Linked DNA regions of Homo sapiens: region 2 is linked to region 1. The links come from fine-mapping of genetic effects on gene expression. A gene starts in region 1. The other region holds a variant in brackets. All regions are shown on one strand. Distances are between the middles of the regions.

Region 1 (12,030 bases):
GGAGTCTTCTGAGATGTATTGATAATTTTTGTTTCCTTTATCCCCAAAAAGTCAGGATTCTTAGTTGCAAAGAAAAGAAGCCACTAAAGTGGAAATGATATTTATTAAAAGCAATTAGGTAGCTGACAGAATGATTAAGGCGGCTGAGAACAGTCTCTAGGCTAAGCTTCCTAGGGCAATGCCCACCAAGTCTGCTGTAAAGAAAATCATCACTGTTGCTGCTATTGAGTAATAAATGTCAGCAACAGAACTTTTCTAAAACTTCTGGCTACCTGCTCTTCTAGAAAACTACCACCTCTTAAACTACTACCCCCAAAAGCTGTACATGTCTGTTGTCAACTATCTGTCAAAAATAGAAGCTTCATGCAGAGGCTGTTTCTTCATGTTGCTCATCTCCAGATCAAAGTCTTAGAGAGCTCCGAGCAGAGGAGTGACATAGCTGACTTATATTGTAAGAGGATAATTCTGACTGCCAGAGGAGCATATATGTAAAGGGCAAGGAAGGAAGCAAGGATAGTACTTAGAAGCTATTGTAATAATCCAGGCAAGAAGTAAAGCCAGGTTGGTAGAAGGTGGAGCGATGAGAAATAGTCGAATTCTGGATACATTTCAAAGATAGACATAATAGGATTTGCTAATTGCCTACATTTGAGGAGTGAGAGAAAGAAAATGCAGGAATAATCCCAAGATTTAGACTTGAGAATTTGGAAGATATTTTGATGACAATGTACTGAGATGAGGAAGACCTTGGGGCAGACGTGACAGGTAGCAGTTGAGTGCATGAGGTGAGCTCAAGGCTGGAAATAGAAATATGGAAAATGCCTTGCATAATAGCTGGCAACTAGTGGGATAGTGGGCAGGGATTTCCTGTTGGGTACAATTTTGGGCATATCTGGGCTTGCCTAATCAAAGTCCTATTTTCATGTAAATGAAGGAGCCTCCTAGGAAGAAAGTTGTGCTGAAATTGACCCAATAGAAAATTCTTTAGCCCTTGACAGAGAAGGAAGATTCTGAACAGCATGGATACCATCACTCGAATTTATCTCCTAACCCAAATTCTGTAGATAGGCAATCAGGGAAGATGTAAGTAAAAACTAAAGGGCGTCTGAGCATGTAGCACTGCCTTGGGGCTGACCCTATGGACTGACTTCTTGAGGCACCCCTAATAGAAACCCATGGAACCGTGGCCACACAAGAGATAAGTGTCTGGAAAAGTAGCATAAGCTCTTGGTGGAAATGGACTTCTTCACCAGTTAATGTAAAAGAAACCCTCAGACAACCTTTTGTGGGTGATTTTACAAGGTGTTGAGGTCCTATGTTAGGCAGTTGTAGGCAAAATCAGTGAGGTATGTATTACTATCCTAATCTGACACAGTTGGCTCCATTTGGGGAAGAAAGATCTGGTTGTAGTATATATTATCACTAATGAAAGGGATTGAGAAAAGAAAAGTAGTAAGAGTATAAAAGAATAGATTATTTCTGCTCTTACATCTGAGAAATTGAAAGGAAATATCACATAGCAGAATCCTTGGCAACCAGAAGAATTCAATGTAGCTATAGTTATGCTTGAATATACAAATATAATTAACCTAGTCCTGAGAACTGCATATAACCCAAAATCATCCAAGCTAGGCAAAAGATGTTAAAGTAAAAAATTAATTTTACAAAGCTATATATTTTTAAAAGGCAATTATTTTTGAAAATGATCCTTTGTTGGGTAGAGAAAGGGAATACATAATAAAGCTAAAAATGTCCAAACATACAACATAAAATTGTTGCAGTCTAATAACTAAAAAAGCCAATATTACTGTTTTGTACATTATTTTAGAAGAAATGAGTATATTTAGTAGGAGCATTGCTCTGCTCCAGTGTCATTGTATAAGAATTAACCTTGAATATCAAGTGGCATTTGCCCAACATTTTTCATCTGAATATCTAAAACTGTTTAAAAACTAATTATAAAACATCATTTATGGGTCATTAAATACATCTATTTCTAATAGGAAAATAAGTTATTTATTTAGACTATTCAAATGAATACCAAATGCAGTGTATAAAAAGTCACAAGGTAAAGAACCCGTCAAGAAACAAATGTAACACCATTGTGAGTAGTTTATATCAAAAATCCATTATTGATCTATAGCAATAATACTTACAGTGTCAAGGTATATTTTTTCCTAACTTGATTTTATTCTCTTGTCAAAATGTAATGCTATAAATATGAAAGTGTTCTAGGTTAAACGTAGCCTCAACTGTATGTATGTGTACTAGTCCATTTTCATCCTGCTGATAAAGACATACCCAGGACTGGGTAATTTATGAGGGAAAGGGCTAGGCGCAGTGGCTCACGCCTGTAATCCCAGCACTTTGGGAGGCAGTCAAGAGATGGAGACCATCCTGGCCAACATGGTGAAACCCCATTTCCACTAAAAATACAAAAAAATTAGCTGGGTGTGGTGGCATGTGCCTGTAGTCCCAGCTACTTGGGAGGCTGAGGCAGGAGAATCACTTGAACCCGGGAGACGGAGGTTGCAGCCAGCTGAGATCGCGCCACTGCACTCCAGCCTGGTGACAGAGGGAGACTCTGTCTCAAAAAAAAAAAAAAAAAAAAAAAAAAAAAGAAAAGAAAAGGAGGTTTAATGGACTCACAGTTCCATGTGGTTGGAGAGGCCTCACAATCATGGCAGAAAGCAAAAGGCATGTCTTACACAGCAGCAGGCAAGAGAATGAGAGCCAAGCAAAAAGGGAAACCCCTTATAAAACCATCAGATCTCATGAGACTTATTCACAACCATGACAAAAGTATGGGGGAAACCACCCCCCATGATTCAATTCTCTCCCACAGGGTCCCTCCCACAGCATGCGGAAATTATGGGAGCTACAATTCAAGATGAGATTTGTGTGGTGACACAGCCAAACCCTATCAGTATGGAATGCACTTATGCATACCTAGAGTAATAAAGGAAAAGAAATAATAATAATAGCTGGTATATATAGTACTTACCCTGTGTCAGGCACTACCTAATCTGTTTTTAGAAATAACTTCTTATTTAAATTTGTTTGTCAATCCAATGAAGGAGGTAATATTATCATTCCTATTTTACAGATAAGGAAACTAAAGGACAGAAAGACAAAATGCCCATTCATACACCTAGTACAGGGTATTTGATTTGAACCCAGACAGTCTAATGAACTTGTGCTCTTAACAACTACAGACAAGATTTGCAATGAGACCTTAAGTTAACATCTTACTAGTGTCATTCCCCTGGTCCAGTTATTTATCCTCTTTATGTCCCAATATTTTCATCTGTAAATAGGAATAATTTTGTGTATACACATACATATATATACACACATATATATGTCACAAGATTATTATGAGAGCATAGTGAGATAATGAATTTGAAAAGGTTTGGTGCTTGTCATCACTGCTGCCAACTGACCTAAGCTAACATGGCCTCAAATGTCAGGTTCCTTTGATAAATATTGAAGCCTCTTGCAGTTAGAGCTGAGTTATGCAAAGGCTATGTTCCCCTCCCTTACAAACCCAGTACCTGATAGTATGCTATTATGAAAGTAAGTCTTGGACAAATTTTGCTAAATGTCTTAACATTCATTAGCAAACAATTACAGAAACATTCCTGCTTTCTACTCTTAGACGCTCCAATGGTAAGCTCACTAAACAGACATTCTAAAGTTAAGACTAGCAGCCTTGAAGTCAAGGCAGAAAACGGGGACCTCTTGTGAGGTGGCAATTCCCTTGAACACTACACCAGCAGTAATAGAGATCTGAGGATGTCTGCTTCTTTATACTTCATTCATGCAATAGCAGGAGGCTGTGTTCAATCTCCCCACAAGCCATTCACCATGAAAATTACTCATTTTGCCAGTGAAAATGATTCTCTAACATGCCCTGTTCTAATTAACAAACTCTCAGGTATCAATTTCCATAACCATATCTGAAGTGTTAACCATCACCTTTGGAGTGTGGATTCTTGGTTAGAGTACTTCAGCACTAATTAACTGCTTCTAGAATATGGACTACAGTTAACTTGTACATTGTCACATACGTAAAACTAATTTATACCAAATTAAAGTATCATCACACAACAATGTAACAGTGACATGTTTGCTTAATAAATATAGCCCCTCCCTCTTTCTGAATCCTTTATCTTTGTCTATCCCCACACCCAACACATAGCCCCAGTAGAATAGGTGGCTAGAGGTTTTGGAGCCTAAATGTTTTTGGAATCTAATCAGGAAGTGTGGGATTATAGAAAATTCTATATCATTTCTCCCCAAGAAATAAAAAAGCTCATCATATATATAAATTGATATATTTAGAACAGTATAGCAAGGTTGAGATTTTTCCACATAATATAAATGATTATCTCTAGCTACACAAACTGTTGCTTTTTATAAGACACTTGAGTAAAGCTTGCGGGGATAGAGAGACATAGTCCATTATGCAGTATTACCCACAATACTGAAATTGTGGATATTCCTTTAGTCTTTTATCTATGCATGGGTTTATCAGGCAATGTATATGTATGAATTTGTGCATGATTTTAAAGATCCCATGACTCTCCAAAATAATTGCAGTTTATTTTATTACTATGAAAGATAGCATGTTCTTGCTGTAAAAAAATTAAACGATACAGAGAAGAATTAAAAAGAAAGTTAAAAATCTTTTAAAATGCTACCATGAGTGATGAGCACTAAAAACCAATCTCTCTGTCTTAACACACGTGCATAATTATCAAAGAGATCATGGTGAAGACTTGGGTTAAGAAGTGGAAAAAGTCATAGCAAAGTTCAAAGCCTTCTAAGCAGTGCAGGCTTACATTTGCTTCCAAGTAAAAGTTCCTGTTCTGTGGCAAACCACTTCTCTGGACTTTTGGTGCAAACGTGTAGTGTGAATTGAAAAGTTTTAGAGTTGTAGCTCTAAGGAGCTAACCTGGTCTGCACAATAACACAAAAATCATCTCTGTGACGGCAGACTTTCCCTTTTGCTGATTATTTTCAGGAAAGTAGAGAAAAAATATTAAATCATTTCAAGACCAAGATAACATTGCTCATTCTTGGGAGTTGTATGTGTATAACAGGGATTACGCAAGCAACCAAAAAAACCACTGATTTTGCTTGCTCGTGGGGTTTCCTCTTTCTTGTTGTTGTATTCAAAACTCAGTCTAGCTCACAGAGACCCAGAAGAAGATGAGAAGCAGGCCTTAGACATGGTTACCACTTCAAACTGGAGAAAGGTCTCTTTGTTTATTGTCACTACATTGATCAAAAAGTTGCCTATGAGACCTGGATAAGACACTGCTTATCTCAGATTCCTATAATGTAAAGACATGCTAGTAGAAATTAGGCAGCCTGGACAAAATTTGAATTTATGTATGAGTATTTTTAAGGTTATTTGTGTGTGTGTGGCAATAGTAATTCTGCCTTATGGTTCTGTAATGGTTTTTGTTTGTTTGGTTGGTTGGTTGGGCTTTTTTGAGATGGAGTTTCACTCTTGTTGCCTAGGCTAGAGTGCAATGACAATCTCAGTTTACTGCAACTCCGCCTCCCAGGTTCAAGCAATTCTCCTGCCTCAGCCTCGCAAGTAGCTGGGATTACAGGCATGTGCCACCATGCCAGGCTAATTTTGGTATTTCTAGTAGAGACAGGGTTTCACCATGTTGGTCAGGCTGGCCTTGCACAACTGACCTCAGATGATCCGCCCTCCTCAGCCTCCCAAAGTGCTGGGATTACAGGCGTGAGCCACCGCGCCTGGCCCGTATGTTTGTTTTTAATGATGGGGCCTCGCTCTGTCACCCAGGCTGGATTGCAGTGACCTGACTATAGCTCTTCACAGCCTCAAATTGTGGGGATCAAGCTATCCTCCCACCTCAACTTTCTGAGTAGGTGGGGCTACAGGTGTGCCTGGAATGTTTCTTTACTTTTTGTTTGCATTAGAAATATTTCCCCACCTCATTCCATTTTCCATCTCTCTTAATTTTCTAAAATACACGTGTTTTCTAAAACCAGGTCTAAACCCCACCTACAGCTAAAATCCTCCAATAACTTCCCATGACTTTGGTGATAAAATAAAAAATCATTAGCAGAATTGAGAAATCCTTCCTGATCTGACTCTTAACTTCTCTCCCCCAAGTGGCATGAAAGCATCATTTGGATTCTGAATTCCATGACACCAGGTATCAAGTTTTCTACCAGTCAGAATCACTACTTATTTACAGACCATATTTACAGAGGGAGACAATATGGAGAGGTTCTTGCTCTATTCTTGCCATAACACCATGTCTTCAATTTCACAACTAGATATATAGTTCCTATCCCTCTAATTCCCTTCTCCTCTCCAGCGCTTTTTCACTTGATCAACACCTAGCTGATTCTAGCCTCAGCAAAGACCTCACCTGCTGTATGTAGGCCGGCTCTGCCGTTTCCAGAATGGGTTAAGTATGCTCTCTTGTGTGTCCATATCTACCTGTGCTTTCCTATATCCAGATCTCCAACAGCCCCTGTTGTAACATCCTTGTCATCACCATCTCACAGCTCTTACCACTGTAAGCTCCTTGGGGCCAGTGACTGTGTTTTTATTTCTGTATTACTAAGGTGAATATACAAGGCAGGAATTTAATATTAGCTAGTTCATTTGATCCTGCCAAACCTCTGTAATTAAGGAAGCAGAAAAGGTCCCATAGTCTCATTCAATAGGTGGCTGAGGTTTAGAGAGTTTTGTATCCTGTCCAAGGTCTTACAGCTAGTTAGAAACAGAAACTAAATTCTCAACTTGAGTCCTGTATTCTTTCTACTATTCTCCCTCTCAATCCCTCTCTCTCTTTCTCTCTCTCTCTCTTTCTCTCCCTCTCTCTCTCTCACACACACACACACACACACACATACACGCTTACATGTTTCTACCATCGTGAATGAATTCTAGGTCAAGTTTATGATGTTAACCAGATATTCCAACCACTATGTGTTGATATGACTCTAAAAAGAAAAAGATTTCTGAAAGCATTTTGCGAGGCATTTATAGAAGTAAGAGATATTTTCATTTTATCACCGCAACCTCCATTAAAAATTGGAGACTATTATTCCTGGAGACTTCAGAATTTTCTTTGGAAATATCTCCCAATTCAAAAGGAAGTCTGACACAGCCTCATAAAAATCTATGTCGTAATAGGTGCTGTGTCACTGAAAACCACTGAAAAGACAGGGTTAAGAACACAAAGTGAGCTGCACACCATATATGGAGAAACCCGTTTCTTAAAACTAGTGATGAACTCATGCTCTGTTCTGTTTTCTCAAAGCTGAAGTCGGCTAGGTTTGCAAAGCTGTGGGCTGAGCACTCAGGCAATCACACTCTCAGAAACTGCGGCGGCTCTGGACTGCAGCCTCCCAAGGCTCCATGCCAGACAAAGCATGCGTGTCACACTTGCTACAATAGCCTGGATGGTTTCTTTTGTCTCCAATTATTCACACACAGCAAATATTTTGCCAGATATCGAAAATGAAGATTTCATCAAAGACTGCGTTCGAATCCATAACAAGTTCCGATCAGAGGTGAAACCAACAGCCAGTGATATGCTATACATGGTAAGGAAAATATCATTAATTGTGGCGTCAGTCAGTCAGAAACAACTAATGTGTATTGACTTTGGTGTTAATACCTTCGTAATACTGAATGATTTTTTTTTCATTGTGATTAATGTATGCAGTAAATTCACAGTCTGTGATCAAAACACATCCAGTTTAGCTCTGTCTACCCAACTGTTGTTATAAGCAAGTGCCACAGCACATTTTACTTCTCTTTGGACACTTCCTGTTTTCTGGTTTTCAGTGGATTTTACTTCTCTTTTTGTTATCTTCCTCCCTGTTAATTTTTGTGATTTGGTTTTCTTTTTTTTTTTTTTTTTTTGTCTCTAAATTTACTTTTTTTGCTGCTGACAAAGTACTGAGTTGCTCAGGTAGGCAGAATGGCATCTGGGGAAAGGATGGGATTTTGATTCAGTAAGGCTTGGGATTGAATTTCAGATCTGTGGCTTTAAGCTGGTTTTTAACCTTTCTGAACTTCTTAGGATATGGGCTGTTGTGGTTATGGAATAATGTTGTGAAACACGGCACACACTATTTTGCCCACAATTAGCCTTCAGTGAAATGTCAGTTTTCCTCACTTAGATTCTAAATTCCATGAAACTAAATTGTCACGTTTCCTACCAGCCCTACTCAGTGCTTGAAGACCATATTTATAGAGGACTCATATGCAGTGGTATCTTCTCTCCTTATCTCACCTCGTTTTCCATTCAAATTCCCACTGTACTCACCCCAGTTACATTTCAGATGAACCCCCTATTGTTTAATGTTTATTTTTGCAGACTTGGGACCCAGCACTAGCCCAAATTGCAAAAGCATGGGCCAGCAATTGCCAGTTTTCACATAATACACGGCTGAAGCCACCCCACAAGCTGCACCCAAACTTCACTTCACTGGGAGAGAACATCTGGACTGGGTCTGTGCCCATTTTTTCTGTGTCTTCCGCCATCACAAACTGGTATGACGAAATCCAGGACTATGACTTCAAGACTCGGATATGCAAAAAAGTCTGTGGCCACTACACTCAGGTAAGGATCTGCCCTATATTATCTTGAAACTGTCTTTTCAAGTATGAGGAGAAAAATTGTACTATGAAGTTAAGAAAATGTATAGTATGCTAGTATACCTGTAAATATAAGGGAGTTAAATAGAACAGCCTCCAAGAACAGAAAATAATGCTTGAAAAGTTTAGTTGTGTGAACTAAACACATAATAGGTAATATGTGAGGCCCACCAACTTGGACAGGCTTTGAACAATTCCTGTAACAGCTATTCTCCCATAGGACTTTATTCCATTTGTGAGAAATCAAAGAACCTTATGAGTGAAAGGATTTTCAGGTTCCAGCTGTAGCATGAGTTTTAAATGAAATTTGAGCCAATTGTTTTGGGACTATAAAATTGGAAGAAACAAGACTCTCAGACAGAAACATCAATAAGAACTGATGCTTCCACAACCTCTCATTCTCTCAAACATCGACTGAAAACCTACTGTGTGCCATGCACTAGGCACCACGCACGGTGCTACACAAGGAGGGAGAAAAAGTCAGTCCCAGGCCAACAGAGAGGCCAACGTGTAAACTTATATGAACCATTCTGAGGGTATTCTGCCCCCAGAATCCATATTATTAGTCCCAATAGCCACATTCAGAGCCACCCATTGAGTTTTTTTTTTTTTTTTTAATTTTTACTCAAGCTGATTCTGGCTCCCTAACCCTACCTCACATTTGCAGCATGATGGAAACAACTCTCTAGGGAGCATCTGTCATAATTGTCTTCAGACGCTGCCTTCCTGTCCTGGCTACATTTTGTTTATTTACTGTCACTTCCTGGCCATCCTTGTCAAACCAATAACGTACGGTACTTAACCTATAATTGACTGTTTTGGGGCACAAAAAATCAGTTGAAATGAGGTATGAAGGCAAAAACGTTTCTATCAAGGCAGTTACATTGAAACATTAGGTGGTTTTAAGGAACAACATGGTGTAAGAAAACCTCCCTTACTCCAGCTCAGCCTTACAAAGCCTGTGATCTCATTCGTGGTGCTACAGATGAACCAAGTTTGGTGCAGTTACAAAAAATTATTATAAGAGTAAAATGAATTTCTCCTAAATTTACTTCATAAACTAACAATTTTGGTTTACATTTACAAATAAATTTAACCAGGAAATAAGTTTCCTTGGATTCCAACAAGACCTAGGGGAGTAGAAAGCTAAATCTAGATAGCCTACAAGTGGTACTTGTACTGTTATGCATTGCGGTATTTAAATACTCAGAAATAATTGTCAGTTTGAGGGTGCCTACTTTCATTTATTTATTAGTCAGTGTTTAAGCTTTTACCCTATAACAGGCACTAGTGATATGTCTTAGTCCAGATTCTTGGAAAACAGAGCCTGAGACAATAGTTTATGAGCTAACATTTTATTGGGATACAATCTTGGAGAAGCGGAAGTGAGGAGAAATAGGGAATGAGCCAGGGAAGGAGGAGAAATACAGCTGGAAATGGTCCCTGGCCCTCAGAAATTGACCTTTTGGGAGAGACTTATGTGTAAATGGATTATGACAGTGTTTGGCTAGTACAATTTAGAGAAGCTGACAAAGTGCCATGTGAGCAAGGAGGACAGAATGAGCAACTTATCCGGCCAAAAGGAAGTGTAAAGCTTCACACTGCTGGAGACATGTGAATTGGTACTTGAAAACTGAGTGGGAATTTTTCAGATGAAAAGGAAAGGGAAGAGAATTCTCAGCAAGGTGTGGAAAGTATACAATGTGTATGAATGGGCCTGGTACTTTAGATCAATGGCAAGAAGCTCAGCATGCCAAATATATAGAGGTCAAAAGACTGTAAAATTGACAACAGACTCCTAAACCATGCTCAATACACAAGTTAAGACACTCCATGTTCACCATTCCAGGAAATCGAAAGAAGAGAACATTTGAGTTTATGCCATAAATGCCTGAGATTTCACAGATGGCCCTCCCAAAATTAACTGAGCTTACTTGTAAAATTTCCCCTTACATCTAAGGGAAAAAAGGAGGACTAATATTTTGGTCATGAGAAAATTCATTTTCTAAAACCCAGTCCCATACATACAGATATTAAAACCCAAGCTCAGTGATCCTAACATGAGTGATCCTCTTTAAGAAACCACTACATTCTACCCCCACTTCAGAAGAGGGGCACTCATCACGGGGAGAATGTCCAAGAACCCCCTGGGCTGGGAAGATAGAGCAGCAGCAATCACTTTTTAAATGGGCATAGTGTTTAGCTCTCTACACTGAAGACCTCATTCAATTATTACCACAAATCTATTAAGGAGATGTTAATGGTATTACCCACAGGTGAATAAACAGACTTAGAGAGGTTAATAAGTTGTTCCCCTGATGTCATTTAGCTAGTAAGATGAAGAGTTGAGGTTCAGATATTAGATATGTTGGAAGGCTTAAATAATAATTTCACTTGCGTCCTTGTGAAGAGACCACCAAACAGTCTTTGTGTGAGCAATAAAGCTTTTTATCACCTGGGTACAGGCAGGCTGAGTTCAAAAAGAGAGTCAATGAAGGGAGATGGGGTGGAGCTGTTTTATAGGATTTGGGTAATGGAAAATTACAGTCAAAGGGGGTTGTTCTCTGGCTGGCAGGGGTGGGAGTCACAAGGTGCTCAGTGGGGGAGCTTTTGAGCCAGGATGAGCCAGGAGAAGGAATTTCACAAGGTAATGTCATCAGTTAAGGCAGGAACAGGGCATTTTCACTTCTTTTGTGATTCCTCAGTTACTTCAGGCCATCTGGATGTATACGTGCAGGTCACAGGAGATATGATGGCTTAGCTTGGGCTCAGAGGCCTGACAAATAAAATATGTATACATTACCTAATAAAATACTAGTATTTAGTAGGCATTGAACAAAGGGTAGATCCTTACATAAGCTGGTTTTCCAACAATCATAATGGAAGAAGGATCTGATAGCTAGGTGAAAGACTGTTTTCATCATGACAAGAAATCTTCCTGGGGGACTCAAAACTACTCAATTGCTGTGTTAAATTCATGCTGAACAGTTACTTTAAGTGGATATTACAACCTCCTACTTATCCTCATCTTCTCTTCAAAAATCGAGCTATTTGCAGATTTTGGCTGATGATGGGAGGTTGTACAGAATAAAGAAAATAGATTCAGGCCCATTAACTCCTCACAAAATGTATGATATTTCTTGATGTATTCATTCAACACTTTAGCTTTGTCTTCACTGGAGATAGACTGGCATTGAGAAAAAATGTTGGTGTATAAAATGGAAGATGACTCAAATTCGACATTCTGTTGCTGACAGTTCAGCTTTATAAAGTTTAGAAATAGTTTAATTAAAGTATCTGGGCAGGGTAGAGGATTACTTGGATTTGATAGTGCTAGGATTTCTCACTAGATGGCGCTACTGATC
Region 2 (12,030 bases), 25 kb after region 1:
ACTGTCTTTTCACTATGGATTCATCATAAACAGTATCATTCTTCTCAGGAAGAAACTTATTTTTAGAACTATATTTTAATAAATTTCTCACATTCTAATATTTAATTTTTATTTTTTAAATTTTATTACCTGCTAGGTATGATGTGTAAAATGATTTTCCATTTATAGTAATGGTATAGTTTCCTTTTTATAAAAGGTTTATAAAGTTTATGTAAAAAGTCAACTTAAAAATACCAAGTTAATTCAGTCAGTTCAAAAAGTTTTGAATAATTAAACTTGGAAAGTCACTGCAATAAAGCCAAAGCAAGTTAATGGTCATAATTATAAGACTTAGCTTTTTAAAATAAAACTCTCAACTGTGTCTACCCTTTTAATTTTTTTTCTTTCTTCCCCCTAACTTTACAGTTAACCGACAGCGAGACCAAGTCAAACGTACGTACATCAATCTTAAATTGTTTCATTAAGAGCTATGTGAATTCTGTCAGTGCATTATGAGGAACAATGTCTAAGAGGATATTCTATGTTTGTTTCACAGGTTACTACTCTGTTGTATATCCAGGCTGGCCCATATATCCACGTAACAGATACACTTCTCTCTTTCTCATTGTTAATTCAGTAATTCTAATACTGTCTGTTATAATTACCATTTTGGTACAGCACAAGTACCCTAATTTAGTTCTTTTGGACTAATACAATTCAGGAAAGAAAAAACCCAAAAACCAACCTCATTCACATATGGCTTTTTTTTTAACCAATAACAATTAGGTGTACTTCTATTTTAAAACATTTCAGAAAAAAATATATGTTATAGCAATACTCTTACTCAAAAGAAGAAATTTCCTAACTCTATCAGATAAACTCATCTTTAGTATAAATAAGCATTATTTGCAGGTTGCCACAGGTGGACTTTTAGTAAGTAACCTAACCCATGTTTCAGCTTCTAAATCTGCAAAATGAGCAAGGTACAGTAGCACATTTTTAGGTGATTCTTAGTAACTCCAGTAGCCTTCATTAGTTAAAAACATTATTATTTTTTGCATGCTGCTTCGACTCTAAATATCTGGTTTTCCCTGTCTTTTTGGTTTACTACTTCCCCAGATTCAGAACAGAGGAGTAACTAGGGGATCTGATTTTAGAGGCCTTAATTTTCTGTTCATGGACTGTTAAAAGTAAAACCAAACTTTCAAAAGGGATAAACCTAAATATTTACTTGTTATCATTAGAGAGGGAACATCAAATGCTGGGACATCATTACTAACCAATAGCATCAGACACTGGATTTAATGGATAATCACAATGGTCGTAATGTATACAAAGACTTATATACCACTTTCTCGTATAAATTTTTCAAAAAATACAATAATAATATAATTTATAAAGAACACTCTTCTATGAACAACCACCACCACCAAAAAAAAAAAAAGCCCTCAGAAAATTTCTCACAAATAAGGCAACTAATGCCTGATATCTCAAAATCCTTTACAAAAGGAGATAGTTCTAGTCAAGGAGTTTTGGGTATGTTACTTTTTTTTCTTCTTTTTCTTTTCATCTGCCTCCATCTTAAGTGCAATTTCTTCAGCTGTAAGAGCTCCCAGTTTCTTATTCTTTGCTTTCTTAACCTTTTCCTTGATGCTGGCCACATCAATTTTAGTTTCAGTAGAAGCTAGACAAATTAAAAGCACAACACATGTAATACTTTAGATTTTACCAAGTAAAACAAAGAATATATGTTTAACAAAGAATATATGTTTAAGGCAGTTAACTTCAGAGTATTCTTATAATTGAATAATTGAAAGGTGATCACAGTATAAAATATAAAAACACTTGCCTAAAGCAGTTAGAAATTTCTTCAGATTAAGATAAAACAAATCATAAAATACTTTATATATTAGTACAAGTATACATAAAAATGGCATAAATGGCATAATTGAACCAATTACTGGATTCAACTATATTAAGACTATTTCCTTAAATCCTACTTCAGACTAAATTATTTTACCTACATTCTTTTCCATATTTTGGAACTTCTGAGTCATTATTTTCCATCTTGCACATTAAAATAATTTAAAATTACATGTATCCCTTCTCAATAAGTTTAATCAGCTAACCCTAAGCTAGAGGTCAAAATCTACTTCCTCTAATATCAAAACGAAAATTTAAAGTTTTCCAAATATTAATTCAATATTAATTGAATATTCAATGAATTAATTCATTTAATGTTAGATTAATTCATTGAATATTAATTCAATGAATGACTAATTAATAGTATTTTAACAAGATTTTGGTATATTTAACAACATTTTGGTAATAAAGACAATAATTTGAGAGTGTGTGGAAGTCCCCCTAATAGAAGCCAACTATCTAATCAATGCCAAAAGTGTGAACAAAATAGAGAAAGGAAGCAGTGAAAAAGAATGCAACTTTTTCTTACCATTCAAAGTACAGGATCACAGCATAAAAGAATCATAAGATAAAACATCAAACTACCCAGCAACCTGAGAAGCACAGAGTGTTAAAGCCTCCACCGTGTGGAGAAACTAAATTAGGGTAACTAGCTATTGAGTATATTGAGTACCTTCAAAGCACTCAACTGACAGGTTTTACAGACTGGAAATTATAATACTTATGACATTTCTACCTTTTATATAACCAATAATCTACCATAGAATGTAGTATTTTTAAAGCTATTAACAAGCAATATATTAAAATAATAATGTATTATATCTGTTTCTGACCCAGTCTATGTACAATATTGCTGGTGAGCCCTCTCCCTTCAGTGTGTCACTGTTCACTTTGGAGGGTTACTTTAGGAAGAGGATAAGTGTTACCACAGGGGAAAAAAATGCAGAAGAGGATGCATCAGAAGAAATGGCATGACAATGTTTTCTCTTAGTGTCTTTTAAATACTAGGTTAGTGCGAAAGTGATTTCTGCCATTTAAAAACCACAATCACTTTCGCACTAATAGCTCCTGAATAAGACCTGTCAGCATCCTTTAGTCTAAGGTGATGAGAAATCCATGTTACCGATATAGAAGCCAAACTCTAAGCCAAGATCACATAAAGAGAAGAAAAAGTACAACTTCTGATAATTCCTCTTTGAGAGGCATGACAGCAGAGCTCAGGGATCTTCTTGCATTTCTACAGAAGATGCACTGGCTGCCCTGGGTTTGTATCTTTCACAACAAAGAGTCTTTTCCAAGCACAGACCAGAGGTCAGGAGAGGACTGTCAATCCAGTTTGCACTGAAATAGGCATTAGCTGCCTCTAAATTATAAATTATCTCAGCCATCCCTTGTCCTTAGGATTAGTAATTAATGAAATGCTAAGAGAACTGATGAAAAGATACAACTGTTTCTTAAAAAGATTCAGACAAATTTATTATGGGTTTACTTTTCCTAATTAATAAAGACTTTTACATCATAGAAAGCATTACCTTCCTTAGGTTTCACAATTGGTTTTTCCTTAGGTGGAATAAATGCTTTGTTTCTTTCCTCTTGTCTCTTACTGATGGCTTCTGCTTGTTTAGCCTACATTAATAAATAAAAAATATATCAGTTAAATGTATTTATAGTTAAATAATTCAAGTATCTATGAACTTTGCTATTCATGTGAGCCAGACATAAAGTGCCGTACCTTTATTGCTTCCATTTTCTGCCGCTTCTTCTGATTTGCCTTCAAAAAGTATTCACCACTAGCCAATTCTTTATCGATCTGTTGAAAACGGTATTTACAATTACATCAGAAATAATGTAGAGGAGAAGTCATGTCCTAAGCAAGTCACAATATCCTTAGGGTAAAAACAATGGGGTCAAACTGATTTATTAATAAAAATGGTAGTGACATAAAGGAAACAGAGTCTAAGCTGAGGGGAATACATACACAAAAGTGTGGAGGTAGGAAAGCACCTCCATGGAATACAACCCAGAGTAGTTCAGGGATATGGCATGGAAGGTCACTGATTCAGAAAAGTGTGAGAAGAAACTGGAGAGAGAGTTTTGGGGAAAATTTGAAGAAGCTTCAATGGCAGACAAAGTAGGAGGGATAAGATTTAGAAATGACTGTAGGTTTCTGAGAAGACTGTAAAGACCAAAGAATAATTTTAATGGAGAGGAATGAAGAATAGATGAGAGCCTGGAATAAAGGTAGTGGCATGCAGAATAAAAGCCAGAACTATCAGGAATTGGTGACTAATTAGCAAAAGCAACAGCTTGTTCATTCAATATACAGCCAACATGTAAAATGTGTATAACTGACCTGTCTCCCACTTACATAGCATTATTATATCTAAGGCACTGTTCTAAGCTCTTTATAATTACTCATTTAATCCTCACTAACAATTCTTTAAGATAGGTATTACCATTACTCCCACTTTAGGTATGGGGAAACTTAAGTATGGATGGGATAAATAACTCGCCCAGTCACATAATGAATTAAGTGTTAAGAACAAGTCAATCGAGACATCACTGTTTCAAGAAGCTTACACAGCTACAGAAGAAAGATAAGTCAATTACTACAAGAAAGGGCCATAAGAAATAAGGCAGGTGTTATGGAAGCATGGTTTAATGACTGCATCACTCCACTTTCCCCCTAACTACTATCAATTTCCTCCATGATCCAAAACTTCCATTGTTTTTTCACTATGATCATCATTTTCCCCGTCAATCACAAATCTTCCCTGAAAGACTCCAACCATGGTTGTGGAAAAAAGAGATGTAGAAAGCAATGAGTTCACATGCTGAGCAGAAGTAGAAAGGGAAGGCTTTAGGATATAGCCAAGGAAGGGAATAATGAAGCAAGAACCCCCAGGAGACAGGTGAAGATGGAATTCAAAGAACACATAGAAGAGGCTGATGCAGGTGGAAGAAAACCCATACGTGAGAGAAGAGGAAACAGAAAGGGGTTCTTATCTGGTGGTCTCAAATATTTCAATAAAATGCAATGTCATATGCTAAACATGGGAGGGCACTGAGAGAATTAAGAGGAAACATGAATTTTGAATGAAATTAATCCAAAGATAAAACTTTCTCTAACTTAATTTGGTAGCCACGTTGCAAGGAAGAAGTCAAGTTTTTAGACTGATCCAAGTTTTAGAGCTTTGCTGAGAAGGTGGGACAGAAGTAAAAAGGGGCATGAATCAAAACAATGATGTGCAAGAACAAAATGGAAACTGGTCATGGTGGGAAAGGAAATGAAGCAGAAGACACCTGACAAAAGGAATCATAACTTAGAAAAACGGTGGGTGTTACAATTTACAATTTAAGATTTCAGAACAAGAACAACCATAGAGCACACAGTCACAATAATGTTGCCAAATCAGAGAAAAGAGTATTGCAGACTAAACGAACTTTTATCCATGGAACATTTACAGTGGCTACAGGGTCACAAACCTCCTGGATGCAGTTTATAATCAATGTGAACGCCCCACTGCACACCCCCATGCACTCAGCTCAAAATATGCCTATTTATATTTACCCTCAGTTTCTTATAGCTCTGCACACACACACACAATATATATATATACACATATCCCACCTGAAATACTTTCAATAAAGTTTCTGACCAAATACATTAAAATAGATTCTCCTTCATATGAAGTTCTACATTTAGTACTAACCTGACTTTCTGGTTGTGGTGGTGGGAATGGCGTATATTCTTTCTTAACAGTTTTTTTCTTTGGTTCCTTGCGTTTATTCACATTTTTGTGTTTGAACTGTGGCAAAAATCTCTCCCAACTTTGTGATCGTAATTCAGAATCTTTTGCCAACTCTCTCTTAATCATTAAGCTCTTTAGTCATGCAACAAAGTAAAAATTTTTACTTTCCAAAGTCACACATTTGTCAGACTCAGACATTATAAATATTGCTTCTATAAATAATAAAAGAAACAGTTCCTAGTTTCTTTGGTGAAATTAAACCAATTACATAAGCAAAAAGGTAGGTTATCACAAACATGTATAATTATTAGAAAACCATTAGAAATTTAATTACAAAATGCAGAATTGTTAAAATGAGACAAAAATAAAACTGAATTTTCAACCATTATTTCATTAAAACATTTAAAATGCCACTTATAAAAGCAGGGAGGGCTCTTAATTAGCTGATGTTCCCTGCAAGCAGGAAGTTTTCAGTAGCAACTGAAATATCACAGAAAAAGACAAAAGTAAACTTTCTCACGATTACAGAAAACCAGTATTTTCACATTTCCCTATTCCATTTAAATTTCAGACCATGGAACATCAGAGGATGCAAACCAGGGATCAGACACATAGTTTTGTTTTTGTCTGCAATATCCCAATATCCCAATGTAACTCAAAATCACTTTCCCCCAATCTAACAGTGACTTTATAACTTAAGTTCATCAAATTTAAGTGGA[T/C]TGCTCAACAAACCCATCATAAAATAGTTCTATATACCATGGTTACATTTCCAAGAATAATCAAACTTTGTGCACACAGGGATATAACAGTTCTCTCTCAAAGGAGCTACAATTTGAGTGTTAAATTCATAAAAAGGTTTTAACGCAACATGAGATGTTCCAGATTTTAATAGAAAAAGGCAGATTTCCGAAAGATCATATCCTTAAATACATGGGTTCATAATCTAAGAAAACTGGATTGATATGATCTACAACAGATTCTGTGAAGCTTACTTTCATTGATTACAACTATATAACATATTACAGTATCCCCTTCAGTAGTTTTCACACTGTGCTCCACAGAGAGCTTCTAAGAAGTACCTACAAAACTGGGGTAGAATTAAGTAGGCTGAAGTCTACCCCTAATTTACCCAAAATAGCTCTGCTTTATCTGTTTGTGCATTAGAATTTCATAAAACATTTAATTTCAAGAAAGGTTTCTGTAGCTAAAAGAAGTATGATAATCACTGGTACAGTTATATATAATTACCACTCACTTTAATGTTATAAATTGGATGAATATTCTTCATAGTATCAAGGACTACTTTTCTAACCTGAAATTTGCAAAGAAAAATGAATTAGTCACAAGGATTTTAATGAGCTATGGAGAAGAGGATTAATACTGCAAAAATCAGGTAATGGGTACCAAATTAAATAATGTAATTAAATAATTAAGTAGTTCCTTCAACTGCTCTGAGTGGCTTCTCCATCTTTCATAAAGGCAGTCAATCTCCCTTGAATACAATACAGTTTCTCAATTACTGCTAAAATGTAGCACAGAGAACTAATACAACACTCTAAAGCAATGTGATTTAGGAGGAAGAGGGCTGGAATACAAGGACTGCCACTGCATACAGGAAAATCACTTTCCTGTTCCAGCTTTCTCATTTGTAATATAAGATAAAACCATATACCTCAAGACTCTCTTGTAAGAATTGTATTCAATATACTTAATTATTGCTCCATGAGAAAAGAGCAGACAATTTATGACAAAAAAGGCCAATAGGATTACTATTAAAGGCCCTGGAAAGGAAGCACAACCTCACAAGCCAGATCCAGACAGTAATAGTACCAAAAGGAGTTAACAGAAACAGCATTTGCTCCACAGATTTCCTCACCACATGTAATTTGAGAAGTTAAAGAAAATGTTCATGAAAAGTTATTAAACATTATACTAAAATTCAAACAAAAGAAACTACATCTTGAAGAAAAGTTTTCAGAGTGTGACCTCTACTGGCTGTATACACTACTGCAAATAACTGGATTTTTGCTCAATTTTCCCGTCATTTGGACATATGTAACTATACCATGTTCATACATGCTACAGACTGAAGATCTTAATGCTCATTTAAATTTTATAGTGGGAGGAGTAATAGTGTGCAGACCATCTAATTCAGAAATGGATGTCTCCATAGTTGCCAAGGTTGGCCAAAACATGTTAGGGTCCAGATATGATGATTCCCTTGAATTATATGACATAAAAAGTATTTACTAATGGGAAATCAAAGCACATTCTAAAGAAATAAAATTATAAAGCATTATCCAATAAACTATATTATAACCAAATTATTTGTTCTCTGCTGAAAATGAATCGAAGATAATACATAGTTCTCACCTCTTTTAAGCCACTAAAAGGTCCAATGGCTGAAACTGTGTTTCCCTGAACCATAATGTAACAATTAGTTAAGAGTTCCAATGCCTGTATCAAGAGATCAAGTTAAAATTCATTACTCTGAAAAAGTATTAAGGAAGAGACTCAAGTTTTCCACTAATTAAAAAATACCTTCAATGTAGATCCTTTGGGACCAATAAGCCGTTGTCTTCGTTTTACAAATCTCTCTTTATTCCTTACTAAAGAACCTATTTTAATGATGTCACATGCAACATCATCCTGAAGAATTCGTACTGCCTTTTGCAAAAAAAAAAAAAAAAAGAAGACATTATCAACATTTTTTACAATTACATTCATTTTCCAGGCCCACGCTATTGTTACCTAAGCACAAATATGAAAACTTGATGGTGGGATGTTATAGGTTAACACTGATGCAAACAAAGCAAAGTCTCTGTAATTCTAGATTTACCTGTTCAAATGAAACACTCCTTGCTAACAGTTTTATCAGATCTCTGGCCCTAATGATGATATATGGATCAAAAGTCTTCTTTGTAGTACAAACAGTCATGCTGCCTTCGATCAGGTCCAGGGTTGCATTAACATGCTACAGAAGGAAAGAGCAAACAAGCAGTTGTCTAAAAATGAGTTTTTTTAGATAATTATAAAGCCTCTCCTAACCAACCTATTAATTTCTGTCACCTCTCAATTCCTATCAATTACTTCCCTGAAGAAGCTAGGTAGTTAAGTATAAATAATGAATACTCAATTACTTTCACACTTTACAGACTATAAGAAACTGGAGCAATTGAAACCATTTACCCTTGGTTTTAGAATACTTTGTACCCACTGGAATATAGATTGCCTCTAATTTAAAAATTATAAATCAAACAAATGAGGTCATACTTAAAATCTGACTAAGGTAAAAATGTAAAGCTGTACAGCTTCCCTATTCTGGACCCAGCTCCAGTCTACCATCTGCTCCATTGGGTAAGAATTGACTTTCCCTTTCAAACTTTTTTCGAGCTAATTAGGGGACTAAATACAAAGTAAAAGCAAATTATCATAGTTTCAGAAAAAAGCAATGATTAGAAAACTTAAGCATTAACTTTCAACAGGAAAAAACAGATTTCAACAAAGCGAATTAAAATGCTATTTTCTCACTTGTGAGCATAATCTCAAGAATATTTCAACATAGTTAAGTGCTGAACAATTCAACATATGGTTGAGTCTCTATGAGTTTACAAAAAAAAAATGAGCTCAATCCCAGATGCAGCTACAAAACACAACCTGCAGCTTGCTGAGCCACCTTCACCCACAATGGCACAACCAACTCCAGAGCAGTCCCACAGTTAGAAACACATTTTATATCACAACCTAATACATATACACACACACACAAACAAAGCCAATATCAAAAAAAGATACTTTTACCATGTGATATGTCATTTTCTAAAGGCTCATTATAGCCATTAAATTGACTTCTCAATACACTAATGGGTTTCAATCCCCAGTTTGAAAAAAAAAATGCAGTTATCTAGGGGCATAGCATCAGCAATAAACAAGGAAAAGTTGGACACATCCACATCTTCCATTTAAGATGAAAGGTAATCAATTAGAAACATGACTCAGCTCAGACTGGGACAGATACATGACAACTATCATGGCCTGGAGCAGGCATACTGAAATTGGGACTTCACAGGTGAATTTCAGACAGTTGTGAAGCTCCTAAAATATTAAAGGTATGTAAATTTTTCAAAGTAATTTATTACTCATAAAATTAAAACAAATGAACATTAGGTAAGAAGAAAACTTACTTAAATAGTTTAGAATACCAAAGGAACCAAAGTAACCAGCTATGTTAGCACCATTAAAAAAAAAAAAAAAGCATTAGCATACATACATTTAAAGGCATAAGCAAGAGCAAAGTCTCAAATAAATGTATTGATATAAGATACACATACATGTTCATTTAAGGCTTTCTGCACCAATGGCCAACACTCTTTCAAGTAAGCTTCCCTGTATTTTGGGAACAAAGTTGCGAAACTGCTCTCCTCCAAAAGTCCTCTGGGATTGTCCTCTTTGGAAAAAGCTGGTTCCTTCCAACCATCAGGAACCGTAAGGAGTTCTGATTCATCTACAGAAAGGAAAAAATTTACACATCACATTTTAACTGTCTTTTGGACATACACATCACATTTTAACTGTCTTTTGGACACTTTATGAACATCCTATGCACATATTCACAAACCTTCCAATACTCCTTGCATTTCCTTTTCCCCTGCTTTTTATATTATTCAAGAGTCAAAGAACGTTCCTCTGTCATTATCATCAATTCTCTGTATTAAAATTATCTGTACACATTTCAGTTGCCTCATATGACAAAGTTCCTTAAGAGCAGAAACCCTCTTCACACTAGTTGGCATATGCCAGGCAGATAGTGAGTACTCCAGAAACATGTACTGCACTACACTATCATAAAATTGAAGATTTGAATGCCATTTTGGTTAGTATTTTAAATACAATTAACCTTTCTGACTTTCCTGGAGTGTATGGAATCTGGATGTATGTGTTTGTGTAAAACTTCTGAAAGAGAATTCTAGTTTATCTTTCAGTTAATAATCACTGGTAATTCTAGATTTTCCTAAGCATTTTGAGTGCCTTATTTCCATACGCCTTTCATCGTAACTATAAAAGGTAGAATCTGTATTATTATTCTCATTTTATAGAAGATGGTCTAAAAAGGTTAAGTGACTTGCCTAAGGGAACACAAAGCTCACTCAGCCTGGGACTCCTTTCACTACAAGAAAATGCCTCCTAAGGGCCGTAAATTATCTTCTGAATCATTTATTTAAAAAACTCTTGATCTTGAATTTGAAGAACTCCTTAATTTCAATAGCTATACTCTAATTCAGTTATACTCAAAGGTATGATCCATAGACTTGCAGTATCAGCACAAACTGTAAGTCTGTCAGAAATGCAATTATTGGGCCCCACTACAGACCTACTGAATGAGAATCTCTTCGACGAGGGACAAGAATCTGTGTTTTACCATGCTCAACAGGAGACTCTTAAGCACGGTAAAGTTTGAAAAACACGTCATTACCCTATGTTAGCAGCCTCAGACAGGTAAACTTTCTGCTTATACTCACATCCACGTTGCTATTTCTGGTTCAAATCACAGACAATTGGCTAGTCTTCATATAAAGGATTCTCCAATGTCCTTTAAAGAACACGAATTCCACAAAAGTGATTACTTATATACTATACACATTTCTTTTTTTTTTTTTTTTTTTAAAGACAGGGCCTCGCTCTGTCACCCAGGCTGGAGTGCAATGGCTCCATCCCAGCTCACTGCAGCCTGGACCTCCTGGACTCAAGCGATCTATTCTCTTGCCTCAGCCTCACAAGTAGCTGGTACTACAGGCATGTGCCATCATGTCCGGCTAATTTTTTTTTTTTTTTTGTAGCGAAAGGGTTTTGCCATGTTGACCAGACTGGTCTCCTGGGCTCAAGCAATCCCCCCTCCTCAGCTTGCCAAAGTGCTGGGATTACAGGTGTGAGTCACTGCAACTAGTTACTTACAATGTTTACCTGACGAAGTCCCTATCCAATTTAAACACTTCAAAGGCTATGGATAATTTTTTTTAAAATCCCCACTACAACCTCAGGAAAAAAACTGACAAAAGAAATACTCAGGAGTTTCACAATTAAGGAAGCCTCAAAACATGTGAAAAGATATGCAACCTCATAGGTGATCAGAAAATGCAAACTAAAACTGCAACCAAATACCATTTCATAACTACCAAAATGACAGAAATTCAAAATTCAGATAACATGTATTCATACTAATGTAAGGCAATGACAACTTTCGTCCACTCCTAGTGGGAACAAAACTGACACTAGCACTTTGGAAAAAAGTTAGCATTACTTACACACACCCTACACTTCAGTGATTCCAATCCTATGTTCACAACCTAGAGAAACCCTTGAACATGTTAACCAGAAG

What was found.
Region 2: its variant is fine-mapped to the expression of GLIPR1 in whole blood (TOPMed, PIP above 0.99).

What each region holds. Positions count from the first base shown.
Region 1 is chr12:75,473,450-75,485,479 of GRCh38, forward strand. It overlaps GLIPR1 (GLI pathogenesis related 1), which reads left to right and starts at 7,306. Exons shown (of 6, transcript NM_006851.3): 1 at 7,306-7,605; 2 at 8,385-8,630. The coding sequence starts at 7,432. It overlaps GLIPR1-AS1 (GLIPR1 antisense RNA 1), which reads right to left. Exons shown (of 2, transcript XR_007063373.1): 2 at 10,005-12,030. RefSeq lists an enhancer at 9,574-9,623 and a silencer at 11,931-12,030.
Region 2 is chr12:75,498,289-75,510,318 of GRCh38, forward strand. GLIPR1 (GLI pathogenesis related 1) reads left to right here. Exons shown (of 6, transcript NM_006851.3): 5 at 406-432; 6 at 536-5,575. The coding sequence ends at 690. KRR1 (KRR1 small subunit processome component) reads right to left here. Exons shown (of 10, transcript NM_007043.7): 2 at 9,986-10,158; 3 at 8,494-8,628; 4 at 8,196-8,321; 5 at 8,028-8,111; 6 at 6,910-6,966; 7 at 5,616-5,786; 8 at 3,635-3,712; 9 at 3,435-3,528; 10 at 1-1,663. The coding sequence ends at 1,521. Among named protein-coding and RNA genes, the nearest start is that of KRR1, 7.3 kb to the right of the region's middle. The variant T/C (reference allele first, on the strand shown) is at 6,374.